Linked DNA regions of Homo sapiens. The protein of the gene in region 3 interacts with the protein of the main gene of each other region in a biochemical or structural test. Each region holds a gene or a part of one and is shown on either strand. Other genes may lie near its edges.

What was found. The genes of interacting proteins can lie anywhere in the genome.
Region 1: the proteins of NGF (region 3) and NGFR form a complex in vitro, tested with the Homo sapiens proteins (2 studies listed by BioGRID and IntAct, with this or other methods).
Region 2: the proteins of NGF (region 3) and ITGA9 form a complex in vitro, tested with the Homo sapiens proteins (one study listed by BioGRID).

Annotation. Positions count from the first base shown.
Region 1 is NC_000017.11:49,512,293-49,515,508, forward strand, and holds the end of NGFR (tumor necrosis factor receptor superfamily member 16 precursor), read left to right. Parts: intron 1-415; coding exon 416-717; 3' UTR 718-2,716; downstream 2,717-3,216. UniProt on the Homo sapiens protein: Low affinity receptor which can bind to NGF, BDNF, NTF3, and NTF4. Forms a heterodimeric receptor with SORCS2 that binds the precursor forms of NGF, BDNF and NTF3 with high affinity, and has much lower affinity for mature NGF and BDNF.
Region 2 is NC_000003.12:37,777,141-37,784,140, forward strand, and holds part of ITGA9 (integrin alpha-9 precursor), read left to right. Parts: intron 1-251; coding exon 252-377; intron 378-2,761; coding exon 2,762-2,881; intron 2,882-7,000. UniProt on the Homo sapiens protein: Integrin alpha-9/beta-1 (ITGA9:ITGB1) is a receptor for VCAM1, cytotactin and osteopontin. It recognizes the sequence A-E-I-D-G-I-E-L in cytotactin. ITGA9:ITGB1 may play a crucial role in SVEP1/polydom-mediated myoblast cell adhesion.
Region 3 is NC_000001.11:115,328,200-115,335,389, reverse strand, and holds part of NGF (beta-nerve growth factor precursor), read left to right. Parts: intron 1-7,190. UniProt on the Homo sapiens protein: Nerve growth factor is important for the development and maintenance of the sympathetic and sensory nervous systems.

The DNA.
Region 1 (3,216 bases), on a different chromosome or scaffold from region 3:
CCCCTGGGGGCTAATTATTGCCCAAAGTAGCTGCAATTAGCCTCTTGCCCTGGACTTCTGGGGAACAAGTAGTTAAGTGTGTACCCTAATTAGTGGCCCATAGCCCAGCTCCGGGACACTTGCTGTAGTTGTCTAGAACTGAGAAGCCCTATCTCCTCCTCTGCCATGATTAATTGCTGGGGGGGAAGAGAGGAGGGATGGGGATAGGGATTGGGCTGGAGTGACAGGAGGAAGGGACAACGAGTCCCCCCAGGTGCCTTCACTTCCTGGTGCCCCACCCAGGACCTTGTCTTGGCCCCAGGCCTCCAGATGGGGAGGAGCACTGCCTCGGCCCTTCTTGGGTCTCACCCCAGTGCCCACTGTTGGGGAAAGGAGTTCAGGGGTAGGACCTGACTCTCCTCTGGTTTCTCTGCAGCCCTCAAGGGTGACGGAGGCCTCTACAGCAGCCTGCCCCCAGCCAAGCGGGAGGAGGTGGAGAAGCTTCTCAACGGCTCTGCGGGGGACACCTGGCGGCACCTGGCGGGCGAGCTGGGCTACCAGCCCGAGCACATAGACTCCTTTACCCATGAGGCCTGCCCCGTTCGCGCCCTGCTTGCAAGCTGGGCCACCCAGGACAGCGCCACACTGGACGCCCTCCTGGCCGCCCTGCGCCGCATCCAGCGAGCCGACCTCGTGGAGAGTCTGTGCAGTGAGTCCACTGCCACATCCCCGGTGTGAGCCCAACCGGGGAGCCCCCGCCCCGCCCCACATTCCGACAACCGATGCTCCAGCCAACCCCTGTGGAGCCCGCACCCCCACCCTTTGGGGGGGGCCCGCCTGGCAGAACTGAGCTCCTCTGGGCAGGACCTCAGAGTCCAGGCCCCAAAACCACAGCCCTGTCAGTGCAGCCCGTGTGGCCCCTTCACTTCTGACCACACTTCCTGTCCAGAGAGAGAAGTGCCCCTGCTGCCTCCCCAACCCTGCCCCTGCCCCGTCACCATCTCAGGCCACCTGCCCCCTTCTCCCACACTGCTAGGTGGGCCAGCCCCTCCCACCACAGCAGGTGTCATATATGGGGGGCCAACACCAGGGATGGTACTAGGGGGAAGTGACAAGGCCCCAGAGACTCAGAGGGAGGAATCGAGGAACCAGAGCCATGGACTCTACACTGTGAACTTGGGGAACAAGGGTGGCATCCCAGTGGCCTCAACCCTCCCTCAGCCCCTCTTGCCCCCCACCCCAGCCTAAGATGAAGAGGATCGGAGGCTTGTCAGAGCTGGGAGGGGTTTTCGAAGCTCAGCCCACCCCCCTCATTTTGGATATAGGTCAGTGAGGCCCAGGGAGAGGCCATGATTCGCCCAAAGCCAGACAGCAACGGGGAGGCCAAGTGCAGGCTGGCACCGCCTTCTCTAAATGAGGGGCCTCAGGTTTGCCTGAGGGCGAGGGGAGGGTGGCAGGTGACCTTCTGGGAAATGGCTTGAAGCCAAGTCAGCTTTGCCTTCCACGCTGTCTCCAGACCCCCACCCCTTCCCCACTGCCTGCCCACCCGTGGAGATGGGATGCTTGCCTAGGGCCTGGTCCATGATGGAGTCAGGTTTGGGGTTCGTGGAAAGGGTGCTGCTTCCCTCTGCCTGTCCCTCTCAGGCATGCCTGTGTGACATCAGTGGCATGGCTCCAGTCTGCTGCCCTCCATCCCGACATGGACCCGGAGCTAACACTGGCCCCTAGAATCAGCCTAGGGGTCAGGGACCAAGGACCCCTCACCTTGCAACACACAGACACACGCACACACACACACAGGAGGAGAAATCTCACTTTTCTCCATGAGTTTTTTCTCTTGGGCTGAGACTGGATACTGCCCGGGGCAGCTGCCAGAGAAGCATCGGAGGGAATTGAGGTCTGCTCGGCCGTCTTCACTCGCCCCCGGGTTTGGCGGGCCAAGGACTGCCGACCGAGGCTGGAGCTGGCGTCTGTCTTCAAGGGCTTACACGTGGAGGAATGCTCCCCCATCCTCCCCTTCCCTGCAAACATGGGGTTGGCTGGGCCCAGAAGGTTGTGATGAAGAAAAGTGGGCCAGTGTGGGAATGCGGCAAGAAGGAATTGACTTCGACTGTGACCTGTGGGGATTTCTCCCAGCTCTAGACAACCCTGCAAAGGACTGTTTTTTCCTGAGCTTGGCCAGAAGGGGGCCATGAGGCCTCAGTGGACTTTCCACCCCCTCCCTGGCCTGTTCTGTTTTGCCTGAAGTTGGAGTGAGTGTGGCTCCCCTCTATTTAGCATGACAAGCCCCAGGCAGGCTGTGCGCTGACAACCACCGCTCCCCAGCCCAGGGTTCCCCCAGCCCTGTGGAAGGGACTAGGAGCACTGTAGTAAATGGCAATTCTTTGACCTCAACCTGTGATGAGGGGAGGAAACTCACCTGCTGGCCCCTCACCTGGGCACCTGGGGAGTGGGACAGAGTCTGGGTGTATTTATTTTCCTCCCCAGCAGGTGGGGAGGGGGTTTGGGGGCTTGCAAGTATGTTTTAGCATGTGTTTGGTTCTGGGGCCCCTTTTTACTCCCCTTGAGCTGAGATGGAACCCTTTTGGCCCCCGAGCTGGGGGCCATGAGCTCCAGACCCCCAGCAACCCTCCTATCACCTCCCCTCCTTGCCTCCTGTGTAATCATTTCTTGGGCCCTCCTGAAACTTACACACAAAACGTTAAGTGATGAACATTAAATAGCAAAGAAAGAAAAATAGTACAAAGAGATTTTCTGGAAATACACATGGTTTGAATTGTTTGGGATTGGGTGTGTGGCAGGGACCCAGGTATAATTTCCAATTCGGTCAATTCCTGCCCTCTTTTCCCCCACACCAAAAGGGGAAGTTTTAACAGAAATCCAGTAAGTTCCCATGTATCACTATGGGGTGAGGTGGGGAAGGAGAAGGGGCCCTTTGCTCCCAGATCTTGGAGAGGGAAAGTGAAAATGGCCACGCAGGAAGCTAGCCAGCTGTGAACTTGACCAGATGTCAGAAGTGAAACTGACCACAGGCAAGTCAGAGGCTCGCCAGGAGGGCCAGGTCACAACCCCACAGCTCCCAGCCACCCACGTGGCCTGGGAGACACACACACACACATACACACCACAGAGAGAGAGAGAGAGAATCTGGCTCCAGATGGCCTAGCAGGAGGCATTCGGCAGGCCTGGCCTGGAGTTAGGCAGGCAGGCCCCTCCCTTGTAGCTCTCGTGGGCAGG
Region 2 (7,000 bases), on a different chromosome or scaffold from region 3:
CATCTCATTTGCATGTTATATGCCATCTCATCAATTATTGGGGGACCTAAGATCCACATTTTCTATTATTTGGCCCTGTTGATGCTACAACTTCTGCCTTTCAGCTTTTCAGCCATTGTTCTCCACTTCAAAATGGACAAGGAGGAAAGGTGAATTGGGGTTCTACCACTCCTGCCTCTACAATAAGAGGCTCCAGCATCATGATTCATTCTTGAGAATGACTCCTCTGACAGGCCTCTTTTCATTTGCAGGTGGGCCAAGAGAAGGGAAACTGCTCTTTCCAGAAAAACCCAACTCCCTGCATCATCCCTCAAGAACAAGAAAATATCTTCCACACAATATTTGCTTTTTTCACAAAGTCTGGAAGAAAAGTCTTGGTAAGGATTTGTTTAGTGGTTGGGGTAACACGGGTGGTCCTCACTCGGAAGACACCAGTTTTCTATTTGATATTTATTATTTCCTAAATCTGGTTTTAATCAATTTGACTTACAAAGGCACAGACTGTGGTCAACTCCTAATTTTCAGTCTGAGGTTTCAATCAAAATGTTAAATTTACATTCCAAATCCTATTACCTGGAAAAGGGATAAATCTTTGCAACCCACCAAGCACAAAGTAAAATGTTTCTTCCACTAGAATGAGTCTAAACAAGAGTGATTATTCTTGTGCAAACATTTTGGGAAACTGTTTGATAATATCTACTAAAACAAAACGTGTGTATCCTATGACACAGCCATTCTACTCTTGAGTATATCCCCAAGAAAAATGAGTACTTGTGCTTCCCAGAAAAGACATGAAAAAGGATGCTCACAGAAATGTTAAAATAGCTGAAAGCTGAGAACAATGCAGATATCCATCAATAGGAGAATAAGTAAGCAATTGTGGTATATCCATACACTGGAATATTACACAGTAATGAAAAATAACAAACTACTGCTAATGAATGAATCTCACAGACAGAATATATTGAGTGGAAGAAGCTAGAGACAAAAGCCACATATTGTAATATTTCACTTATACGAAGTTCAGAAATAGCAAAAACTAATCATGATGATAGAGGTCAAGAAGGTGGTTACTTTCAGAGGAATGTGGATGGGATGGGGCATGAGGGAGCCTGCTTAGATGCTGGAAATGTCCTACATCCTAATCAGGGTGGTAGTCCTCCAGGTATAAACACATGTAAAAATTTTTAAAGACAGGCCGGGCACGGTGGCTCATGCCTGTAATACCAGCACTTAGGGAGGCTGAGGGGGTGGATCACCTGAGGTCAGGAGTTTGAGACCAGCCTGGCCAACATGGTGAAACCCTGTATCTACTAAAAATACAAAAATTAGCTGGATGTGGTAGTGGGCGCCTGTAATCCCAGCTACTAGGGAGGCTGAGGCAGGAGAATCGGTTGAATCAGGGAGGCAGAGGTTGCAGTGAGCCAAGATCGTGCCACTGTACTCCAGCCTGGGCAACAGAGCAAGACTCTGTCTCAAAAAAAAAAAAAAATTATAAAGACACACACTTCAGATTTGTTCTATTTACTATATTTGTTACACCTCCATTTTTAAAAAGTGCAGGTATTGAAGATGGAATGACAATGCTTTCCAAAGCCTCCTTTTTTTTATCTTTGGTTACATTTCTCTAAGCTCCTTATTTCAGCCCTGGCACATCTCACCTTTATCATTTCCTTTCTCATTCTTTTCTCCTGTTGGAGAAGGGTGACTGTTTGCCACTTGAAAGGTTGGGTTTTTTTTTTTTTTTTTTTTTTTTACTTACATAGTGAGGGTGATATTGTTGAAAGCCCTTAGACTTGTTAGATGTAGTGATACCTAGTGATTTTATAGTTACGACTCTGTCTGGCTGAAAATTTTGCCGTATAGATGAAACATCATCAAGGTATGTATACGCATTTTGGAACCTATCATATAAAAAAGAAAACTTTTGTAACTTAAATTTGGGATTTATGTTTTTGGTTTTTTGTTTGTTTGTTTGTTTTGAGATGGAGTCTTGCTCTGTCGCCCAGGGTGGAGTGCAGTGGCATGATCTCGGCTCACTGCAGCTTCTGCCTCTCGGGTTCATGCAGTTCTCCCGCCTCAGCCTCCCCAGCAGCTGGGACTACAGGCGGCCACCACTATGCCTGGCTAACTTCTGTATTTTTTGTAGAGACAGGGTTTCACCATGTTGGCCAAACTGGTCTTGAACTCCTGATCTCAGGTGACCCCCCTACCTCAGCCTCCCGAAGTGCTGGGATTACAGGCGTGAGCCACTGCGCCCAGCCGAGATTTACGTCTCTATTGTAACTTTTGTGTTTTCTTGAGGAAGTGTCACATGACTTCTTAGCCCTCTTATTCACCTACCTAATAAATAGGCATGAAAGTATATTTGCCACTACACAGGTGGAAGTCACATAATGTAGGAAACGTGTCTGTGTTCAAAACTCATAAGAATGCTTTCAGAATGCAAAATTTAAGTTTGTGGGTTTAAAAAAAAAAACAATTATTTCTCTTTGTGAATTCATCCAATTCTTGGTAGGATAAATTAGTGAGCTGTTTTCTCCCAGTTGCTTGACTTAAAGGCATGCTCTGGTTCCCACTGGGTGGGAAATCCCTTGAATGCCCTCTGGTGGCGAGAAAGAACGATTGCATCTTCTTGTGGATTTCCTCTGCCTGGAATTGCCTTAGTCACCAAGTTCATGGAGCCCACTACTCTGTAAATTGTTGTGGATTTGTCTTTGTTCTTAATTCCATTGGAAATTTTTCTGACTTTTCTTCTCAGGACTGTGAAAAACCAGGAATTTCTTGCCTAACAGCACACTGTAACTTTAGTGCTCTTGCTAAAGAAGAAAGTCGTACTATAGACATTTACATGCTGCTGAACACAGAAATACTGAAAAAGGTAAGCCCTAATGAACCGCACTTGTGGATGCATTTAGAAGCATTTGAATTGTTGACATCTGATTTTGGGTAAAAAAAAGGAAAAAGGAAAGCATTTGAATTGGTGTCCTCATGACAATCTGGCTGCCCCCCCTTTTGGCTGTCTACAAGAGACTGTTTTTATTTTTATGTATTTAGGGGGTACAAGTGCAGACTTCTTATATGAATATATTGTATCGTGATGAAATCTGGGCTTTTAGTGTACCCAATAGTGAACATGGTACCCAACAGGTAACTTTTCAACCCTCACCCCCCTCCCACATTTTGGAGTCTCCAATGTCTGTTAATTCCACTCTTTATGCCTATGGGTACCCATTACTTAGCTCCCACTTATAAGTGAGAACATGCAGTAGTTGACTACTTATGAGTTATTTCACTTAGGGAAATGGACTTCATTTCCATCCATGTTGCTGCAAAAGACATAATTTAATTCTTTTTTATGGCTGAGTAATATTCCATGGTGTGTGTGTGTGTGTATATATATATATATACCACATTTTCTATAACCAGTCATCCATTCATGGACACTTAAGTTGATTCCCTATCTTTGCTGTTGTGAATAGTGCTGCAATAAACTTACCAGTGCAGGTATATTTTTTATACAATACTTCTTTCCCTTTGGGTATATACCCATTAGTGTGATTGCTGGATGGAATGGCAGTTCTATTTTTAGTTCTTTGAGAAATCTCGATACTGCTTTTTTGATTGTACTAATTTATCTTCCCATCAACAGTGTATAAGTGTTCCCTTTTCTTTGCATCCTCACCAACATCTGTTGTTGTAGTTGTTGTTGTTGAACTGTTTAGTAATAGTCTGGCTGCCCCTTTTGAAACTTTTCCAGCAAGTGCCATTGGTAATTTTGCTGGTAGATAATGCCAGGGTAAAATACCAGACCCTTGCTACTCAAAGTGTGGTCCGAGGACCAGCAGCATCAGCATCACCTGAGAGTTTCTTAGAAATGCAGAATCCTGGGCTCCACCCCAGACTTAATAAATCGGCATCTTCATTTTTAACACATTCCCCAGGGATTTTGTTTGGCCATTTAAGTTTCTCATGCTTTAGCTTGCATCAGAATCACCTGGAGATCTTGTTCAAACACAGATTCCTTTGGGGTGCAGTCTGAGGCTCTCCAGTTGCCACAAGCACCCAGGTGATGCCAGTCCTGCAGTCTAGGGACCTCGCTTTGGATGAAGGTTGGCTAACCTTTTCTGTAAAGGGCCAGTGGTAAATATTTCAGGCTTTGCAGGCCCTACAGTCTCTTGCAACTGTTCAACTCTGCCATTGTATTGTGAAAGCAGCCATAGACAACACTCAAATAAATGGGCATGGCTGTGATCCAGTAAAACTTTATAAAAACAGGCAGAGGGCCAGATTTGACCCATGAGTCCTAGTTTAAATGACGGTTTGTTTTGGTCCAACTTTTGAACCTCAGGTCACTTTGCTATTATGAGTTTATCACAGGTGGTTCATTAAAAAACCACCTCAACCAGTGCATCGGTGGCTCTTGAAGAATCATACAAATTTCCTATGATTTATTTTAAGGTGAGAGCTGCTGAGAGGCCACTTCCAACAAGTTGCTGTAAAAATAATTACATGTGAAGATAAAACTAAATATGCATGTTAGCCTCAGAGATTCCAATTATTTTTCTTTAGAAAGACTAAATGTGTTAATCTGTACAAACCTATCCACGTGTGAATGAATAACCTTAGAAAAGTCATTCTGTGGTTATTTTTAAATAGGCACAGAGGTAACACACTGACCTGAGAGGATGCAGGCATCAGGGGATGTTTTTCCATTTTCAATCTGTAGCCGTTACAGCCCTCACACACCTGAAGAGAGCTGTGCATAGTTCTGGTTTCTCTGGTTTGCTCTGGAGGGAAACTGGTTTGGGGCAAGTTGGACTCACACTGCAGTGCTTTCTTCTCCCTTTGTACCTCTCCCTTTATAAAGGACAGTGTTGGAGGAGGACCAGGCCTGACTTAGAGCACCACTGGCCATCCTCTGATTCCATAAGGGAGGCTGGAAAACCCCACGTCTGGAGAAGTACCTTCCTGAAATGTGTCCGCAGGCCAGGCTGGAGGACTATGCCTCTGCATATGTACCTGTCCTGTTTGTATTCTTCAAAAATGGTGCTGCAGACAGTTTTATTGCCTGTGCCATACTTGCCACTGTCCATAGAGCCCTGGTGACAGCACTGGTGGCTGTAAGCCACTCTGATGTTTCCTTTATCCTCAACCCAGATGGCTGCTGCTTGCACTTCAGTTATTTGCACTTAATCATGCACAGCTCTGCAGCCTGGTTCTTCTGCTTTTCTATCCCGGCAGCCAGTGGTGACCCTTTGCCAAGGAACATGTCCCAGTGACTACTGTCCCCATGGGCCAGCCAGGCCAGTAGAGCCGCAGGCAAGAGAGCTGAAAGCTGTAGGGTGTCATATGAAGCCTTCAAGGCTCATTCTCCATGTGCCCTTTCAGCAGAAACCAGGAGCACTTCCAGGTGCAGAGAAAAGCTTAGAACAAAGTTGACCTGGAAGCCAGATGGGGCCCCAGCTGCTCCCAGAGCTTCAGTTGCCCTGAAGCCAGCTACAGCCTCCCTTGGGGAGTGGAGCCCACATGGCTCCAGGCCTCCCGAAGGATGTGGAGCAGCGCCAGCCTTGTGGTTTGCCTGGGCCTGCAGTCGTGTTTATTTTCCTTTTGACCTCAAGATCTGGCCCCAGACAAGGGAATTTGAGGTTTTACTGTTTTGACCTTAACAAGTTTTCATTTGAAATGTAGGATCTGATTTTTAAAATCACTGTAGGAGCCGGGCGCAGTGGCTCACGCCTGTAATCCCAGCACTTTGGGAGGCTGAGGTGGGCATATCACAAGGTCAGGAATTCAAGACCAGCCTGGCCAACATGGTGAAACCCCATCTCTACTAAAAAATACAAAAATTAGCCTGGCATGGTGGTGGGCACCTGTAGTCTCAGCTACTCGGGAGGCTGAGGCAGAAGAATCGCTTGAACCTGGGAGGTGGAGGTTGCAGTGAGCCAAGATCGTGCCATTGCACTCCAGCCTGGGCAACAGAGCGAGACTCTGTCTCAAAAAAAAAAAATCACCGTAGGATTCGGATTTTTTTGGAAGTATTCTTCTTTCAGTCTGTAAGGCTTTTCTCACTGATTCTACAACCGTGGGGGCCCATCCTGTGCCAGACTCCTCGTCTGCTTGGCCTGTAACGTTGGCAATTATCATCATCATTATCGTTATTAATATCCAAGTTTATTTTTATTTATTTTAATGTTTTTATTTAAAAAAATATTTTTAGAGACAGGATCTTGCTCTGTCACCCAGATGGGAGTACAGTGGCTCAATCATAGCTCACTGCAGCCTCAAACTCCTGGGCTCAAGTGATCTTCCTGCCTCAGCTAGTCCTCAGCTAGGACTGCAGGCACATGCTACCATGACAGGTGAATTTTTTTTTAATCTTTTGTAGAGATAGGATGTTTCCCCAGGCTGGACTTGACCTCCTAGCCTCAAGTGATCCTCCCACTTCAGTCTCTCAAAGTGCTGGGATTACAGGCCTTAACCATCGTGCCTGGCCCAAGATTATTATTATTATTCAAGATTGAAAATACAGCATATCCTGATACATAAAACCCCAACTTTATAAAACTGTTAAATTGGTAAAAGATTATTTGTTGCTTAAAATTATTTCTTGCTTAAAGTGAGTTAACTGGAGTAACTCTTTTGAATGACAAGCTTCCCAAAAGCATTTAAAATGTGTCTTATGGTTGTTTTAAGAAAAGAATGATAATTGGTGCATAACTCCCAAGTCACATATACAGACCAGGGTCCCTGTGTGCCCCAGGAAGGTCTTTGTGGTTTCTTTGGCAGAGATGAGCAAAGGGTACCCTTGGAACTGTTTTCTGTGGAGTCCTCTACCTTCCTGTTTCTTTGAGGGTTTAACCAAAGGTGGCATTTAAGTGTAAGCTCCTTGCATGACAGGCAAGCTGGGTAGATGTAGGTGGGGACACCACAAGACACCTTGCCTGTGGAGCCCCTCCTGCCCCACAGGTAGAATGTTGAATGCACTAGTTCTCTGCTA
Region 3 (7,190 bases):
ATAAATGAGGATGAAAGACCCTTCCCCAATCCATTCCCATGAGACATCGCTTGATAACAGTGGGAAAATAGTTAAGATCCTAACTCCAAATAGCAGTAAGGCCAGGATGATCCTGAGGCTGATATGTGAATGGAGAAACTGAGGCTTTGGGGTCCTCGGTCTTTTATTAGGCTGTGCAGAAGCATAGAAACGTCACTATTTGAGCCGAGGAGAATAAACCTTCAGCCACAAAGTTTAGTGAAGACCAGAAGAATGAAAACATGCAATGGAGAAGACTTTCTGGTGGTTCGTGATGTTTTCATTGCTCCTCTCTGGGCTACTTTACATGCTTTTGAGGCCTCAGACTAGGACACAGTAGGAATCAGATTAAAATGTTAGGATGATCCCTTGATATTCTTCTCCTATATTTTGGGTAAACTTCCTGTTACAGTTTCCTCACTTGTGAGAAAGGAAGGGAAGTAGCTTTGTGACCTTGAGCAAGTCGCTAAGCTTCTCAGGCCTCACTTTCCCAACTCATTAGGCAAGTATATTGGATTTATATTGTTTCTGAATGGAGCTGTCAGCATTTTGGGACAATTCTTGGTTAAGTGTGACCAATCTGCACAGTGCAGATAGTTTAGTATTCCTGCCTCACCTCCTAAATGTCAGAAGTCATAGTGACAACCTCAAATGCCCCTCATAAAGGGCTAAGTGTATTCAAAGATAATGCTGCTCCCAGTTGAGAAGTCTTTTGGAAATTACCAATAAGGGCCCTATTGTTGGGGTTTCTGTGGTTAATCATCAAACTGGGGCTCCAGAAGTCAATTCCTGGGCTTCATCCTCCAAGAGCCAGCAAATCAGACTCTAGGCCACCATCGGCAGGGACCTCAGTGCTGTAGTCCCACCAAGTGTCATCCTTTGCCTTTTGTGAGTGAAGTGGACTACAAATGACCCATGGGAAAAGAAAATCAGAAAGAGTAAGGTGAAGGGACAGGTGCTATTAGAGCATGGCAGCTTCCTACTCTGCCATATGTTATTAAAAACACAGGCAGACTGCATGCCTGTGGAGTCTGCAGCACTGGGAGGAAATCCTTCCCTCCTTTGCTAAGTGGATCACACTCTGGCATCAGGAGGTTCCTTCCCTGAAGCAGAAGCCCCCAACACTGACCGCACTTAATACAACATGAGTGCACATTGACATCGAATTAATACAACTGTGCCCAAGCTGTGAAAATAAATGAGAATTGATAACGTGACATTTCCTTGAAAAAAAGTAGGCTAGCAACACTACACTCGAGGGATGGTGCTTGTGGCACTGGGTTTATTCTCAAGTAGAATAGCTCATTATTCTCACCTCTGCTTCAAGGTCTCATTGGGGGACAGAAAATAGAACTATTTGTTTATTTATAGTACCTAGGGTTAAAATGAATAATGTCTTCAGAGGGTAGGAGGGTATTATAGGAACACATGCTTTCTACTCATGCCCAACTCATTACAAGTAGGAGTGAAAAGGAACTGCAGAGCTTGGCGCTGATTTCAAATGAGGGAAAAAAAAGAAAGAAAAGAAAAGAAAGAGAGAGAGAAGAGAGAAAGAAAGAAAAAGAGAAAGAAAGAAAGAAAAGAAAGGAAGGAATGAAGAAAGAGAGAGAGGGGGGAGGGAGGAAGGAAGAAAGAAAGAAAGAAGGAAAGAAAGAAAAGAAAGAAAGAAAGAAAGAAAGAAAGAAAGAAAGAAAGAAAGAAAGAAAGAAAGAAAGAGAAAGAAAGAAAGTCTTAAGGAGCTCCCTCCCCAAATGAGGTTGATCTGATGATGAAATCTGTCAGGTGGAACTAGCAACAATGCTTTTGAATTGCCTAAGACTGTAGCCAACGCATTCACGTGCGGGAAGTCTTTTTTTTTTTTTTTTTTTTTTTAGTAGTACTATTAGTCAGAGTCAGACAGTCAGGATTTCCCTGAAAATCCACCACTGGGCTAAGCAGATTGAGATGTTTTGGCACTTTTGGCACCGCCTGTGGTGGCTTCTGCAGGTGGAGAGCCCTGCGAATGAAAGAAGCTGGCTATGAAATCAGTGGGAATGAACCACCCAAGTTTCACACAGAAGCCCTTCCACATTGGGCAATTTCAATCCACTACTACAGGAACAGTTTCCCAATAACCACGAAGTATTTGTTGTCAGTACAGATGGGCTGATTTTCCCATTTCCTTTGGCTGCTCCTTCAGTAGTCAGAGTTGGTGGTATAGGTCACCTCCCCTCTGTGTGCAGTTGCTAAGTGAGCCCAGGGAGGATGGTCTCAAGAGCTCAGCCCTTGCCCAGGTTAGGGGGTGGGGGAGACTGTCCTGACTTCAGTTCTTCATCATTACAGATGGATTACAACCCTCATTAGTAATGGAGTGACTTGCATGTCTCACTTGCTCAGTCTAGTGAAATGCCAACCCATTTTTGGATCTGAGCAGACCTGGCTGAGAGGTCAACGATTGAGGTACTGCCTCATCACTATGGATATGTATTGAACCCCCATTGTGTATGAGTGATGCCAAGTGGGACAGGCTCCCTTTGGATTATGGAGAACACTTTCAGAAAAAGAAGTCACACTGTTTCTAGCTGCCTGAGAGGTGCTGGACTAGATAAGCAGGGGGAAGGACGGGGTACTCCAGGAAAGTGGAGACATAGGAGGGCCTCTCCTGTCCCTAAGTTTTCTCATCTGTAAGACAAAGATATTAGTAGTAGCTATGCTGTCATCTGGCTGTTGTGCACATTAAGTGGGAAGGCATAGGCAAAACAGCAGCACAGGCCTGGCATGAGGGGGGCACCAACGAACATGAGCTTCCTCCCCTCACGTTCTCCCTTGGAAGGGCTGATCTGAGGGGAGCCCCCACTTCATAGTTGTTTTTTTTTAATTTCAGGTAGGATAACATCTTTTTTGTATGTTTTTAATGTATCTGTGCATATATAGCTTTTCTGTTTTGGGAGGAGAAATCTTTTTGGTTGCATTGAAGACTTCTCTAGGAATTTACTCACTGATATTTTGACCTTCTGTAGTTAACATTCTCATTTTGATAGAATTTTAACCAAACATTTCATCTTGCGATTTATCTTCGCCTTGTAATGTCTGGGTAAGAGAAGACTCACGGAGGTTCTCCTGTAATTTTCTTTCAGAGGCAAACTTCTCCTCAGACTCTTATTTCAGAAATGTTATGCAATGCTCTCTAAATAAGGCATTTCTTGAGAATGACCATGTTTGCTTGCAGCTTTAAGAATGTTTTGCTTCCTTACTCCACGTAACAACTCCTCTGTGTCTTTAGGATTTTAAATGTCTTAGGAATTCTTCAAGTTTACAAGAAAAGAAAGAGAAAGTGAATTTTGCTATGGCAGTGGGGCATTTCTGCTCTCCCAGACCAAGAGCCAAGGGTTAAGCAGCTGTTGCTGAATTACATAGAACCTGTGGTTAAAGGGGAAGATTGTCCTCGCCCCACAGGGGAGGGGGCCCACCATGTATGAGGCTACTGGATAGATTTTCTTCTCTCAATTAGCATCCTTATTAATATGCTACCTGGGACACTGGGCACTCTGGGGACTCAAAATAAATATAAATCATGATCCTGCCCCAAGGAGCTTGCTCAGGAGTCATAACTAAAAGGCTTAGTGGCTCATGAGAGAATATAAATGAGCTGAGGCCAGAGATTGCTGGGGCTGTGAAAAACTAGAGAGGCTATGCCTCATTGTTAAGGGACAGGCCAACCATTGCTGTAAAGGATTATAGGTCCAATACAGATCTCTTCAAGAACTTTTCAAGAAAAGCCAAAACTTTGAGACTGAAAAGCCAAAACTCTGAAATTTCTTCACTTTCCACACATGGGTACAGACCAAACAAAATTTGTCTGCAGGCTTTTTAATCTTCTTATGTGAATTAACACATGGAGCAATTGCAAGCAGTATCAAAACTGGAACTAGTGGAAGTACTAATTCTGTGAATATATGACCTCCAAGAGGGACAGGTCTGGATGTCAAGAAGGCTTTCAGGGAGGCTCCTCGGAGGGCAGTGAGGGGCTGTCCCATAGGCAGGTAGGATTTTACAGGAGTCCTGGCACACAGATAGAACTGGATTTAGGTCCAAGTTCACTTCTCATTAGCTCTGTGAGCACATTACTTAACCCCTGTAAGCCTCAGTTTCTTCATCTGTAAAAGGGAATCATGATGCCAACTGATTTTTGAGGGCAATTGTGAAGGGGAAAGGAGAGAGTGCTGGAAAGTTCTTACCTCAGAGTCTGGAATATAGCCAATGCCCAGTAAGCTGAGGCCCCTTCCCGATGTGGACCCCCTCATTGACATTGCAGACAATTGCTTTTCAAGGATTTTGAATTGCTTTTTCTGCCCCAGGAAAAGCACAGGAGGTCTGGGTTATTTTTCTCCTCTGCTGCCCTCTTCTTGCTTCTCCCCGAGGCCTGTGGCTGCTTGCCCAGTTGCCCTTTGTCAGAATCCCACCCTTTAAAAGCCTGACCTGGGCCACAGCAGAAATCACAACCCTACTCAGTAAGGAGAAGTACTCCAGGAGGCTGTATAGACACGCACGGCAAATATTTAAGGAATTCTTAGGAATAAAAAAAATTCGTAAATCTGGATTTTTGCATGAGGCCATCACAGGAACATGTTTTCTCAATTAGCGTGCACATTGCTTGGAGTGAAGTCACCGAGTCCACAGCCCATCAGGGCTGACTCGAGCTGAGCCACCTGATCAGACTTCACTTTCCATGACCTAAATGTGATTCAACCAACCTGCCACTGCCCCTAGCTGCTGAAACAAAATCATCCCTGAAATCCCAAACCAGGGTGGAGATGTACATGCTCCTCTGAAAAGCAATCTAATTTCAGATCCTGGTTGTATTCACCCCAAATTGAGAAAGACAGCACTACTCTGGAGGGTGGATTGATAGAGTCACCACAACACCTTGCATGTTTCTTTTCTTTTACCATTTATTGTTAGATGGCGACTGTGTGTAGCCTTTCAGAACAGATGACTTCTTTAGGTTCTGAAAACAGAGAAAATAGTTTCTTTTGCTAAAGCATACATCAATTGCCTAAAATATTAGCAGTCAGTGCCTGAGATGAGTGATTATATATTCTGGATGGTTTCCTGGACTGACTCTTTTCCAAGCAAATGGCTTTGTCAGATATTTGTAATTTCTGAAATATTTTATTAATGATGTCCTCTTGCCAGAGGGATGGTCCAGAGTACACAATTAGCTGCATGCCTCAGAAGCGAGATGCTGCCCAGCATCCACTAAGATCAAGCAGGAGTTCAAGGACACTTCTAATCAACTGCCATAGAGCAGAGAACAGAAAATGTTTTTACAAGTTGAAGGCCGGGTGTGTGGCCCATGCCTGTAATCCCAGCACTTAGGGGGCTGAGGCGGGAGGATCACTTGAGGACAGGAGTTTAAGGCCATCCTGAGCAACAAAGTGAGACCCCATCTGTACAAAAATAAAAATAAAAAAATTAGCCAGGCATGGTGACATACACCTGTAAGTCCTAGCTACTAAGCAGATTAAGGTGGGAGAATCACTTGAGCCCAGAAGGTTGAGGCTGCAGTGAGCCATGATCATGCCACTGCACTCTAGCCTGGGCAAGATAAGTGAGACCCTGCCTCCAAAAAAAAAAAAAAAAAAAAAGAAAGAAAGAAAAAAGAAAACAAAATACAGGTTGTGAAATCAACTTAGTGTGCAACTCTCATTAGGGAAAAAAATGAAAGAGCATAGAGTAACATTTTCAAAAATTAATATGCATTGGATATAGCAAGGGAAAATTTTTATGAAACTTTTGTTTTAGTTGTACTGTATGTATGTACATATACATATATATGCAAACTGGCTCATGATGGAAAATGCATTTTTTTTACTATAAGTCATAGTCAAAAAAAGTGTGAAAGCCACTGGCATAGACAACAGCATGATTTCGAACAGCGGATGGCTCTGAAGCCAGGCAAGCTTGGGGTTAAGTCCCAACTCTGTGATTTGCAGTTGTGTGATCTTGGGTAACTTTTGTTCTCTAAGCAACAATGTCCTCATCTGTAAGGTGAGACTAGTTTCTCTCTTGTATAGCTGTTGTGTAGATTAAGTGACAAAGTGTATGAAGTACATCTGTGAAGTACATACATAGATGTATGAAGTACATACTATGAAGTTCTGTGCCTGCCACCAAGGACACCCTCAGTAAGTGAGAGCTGCTGTCATCATCTGCCTTCCCCTTGCCCATTCCTCCTCCTTCTCTTCTTCCTCTCCTTCTCTTCTTCTTCCTCCTCCTCTTCTTTTCCCTTCTCCCTTCCTCTTTCTACTTCCTTCTCCTCTTCTTTTCCTCTTCTACCTCTTCCTCTTCCCTCTTTCTTATCTTCATTGTAACTACTCAACCTCATCAGAACTATTGACAATGTTTTTATCCCTAAGGTTTGCTTTTTCTCTGGCAAACACAGCAAAGAAGCAACAATAATCGTATCCTGTCTTTGGCCCCACCTTCTGCACTGTCTTTCTCCCATTTCATGCTTGCAAAGCCATCTTTCTTTGATTCTCTTCCCCAAGCATGACCATAACAGTAATTGTCCAAGGGGCACAAGACATCCTCCTCCCTGTCACTGGGCACTGACATTGGGTAGCATGGCCTTTCATGGCCTTGCCACTGGGGTAAACGCTTTGGTCCTAGTGTGGGTTCAGTGACTTTGGCAGGAGCTTCTGATCCCACAAAATCATATCCTTCCCCTTCAGTATATTTTTATAAGAACAACAGGGCTAAGATACCATTAAAATGTTGATATTGTCAAAATTCTAAAGAAGTTTCTGCCCAGAGCAGAGAGTCTAACATTTTCTCCTGAGCGAGGCTCCAGGCTGCCACAATGCAGAGGGTTTCAATTTCTCCCCTGGTATAAACAGTTTAAAGGCTCTTAATGTGAATGCTGGAGCTGACACCTTCAGGTAAACCCTGATCCTAACTCCAGCCCTCAACCCAATGGGCAATCTATCACTGACCTCAGACCTTTGGTTCCCAGTGGAGGGCACATGAAAGAGTGACCCACACCAAGATTCTACCTTAGGGCCACAAAGGTGACATGTCCCAATTTTCTTGAGAGCCTGGCTAATGTAGCCTCTGAGGACAGATCAGTGATGACAAACTGCCTACCTCTTAGTTCTCATGGAAGCTTAGCCTGCCCCCATTCTGTATTCACC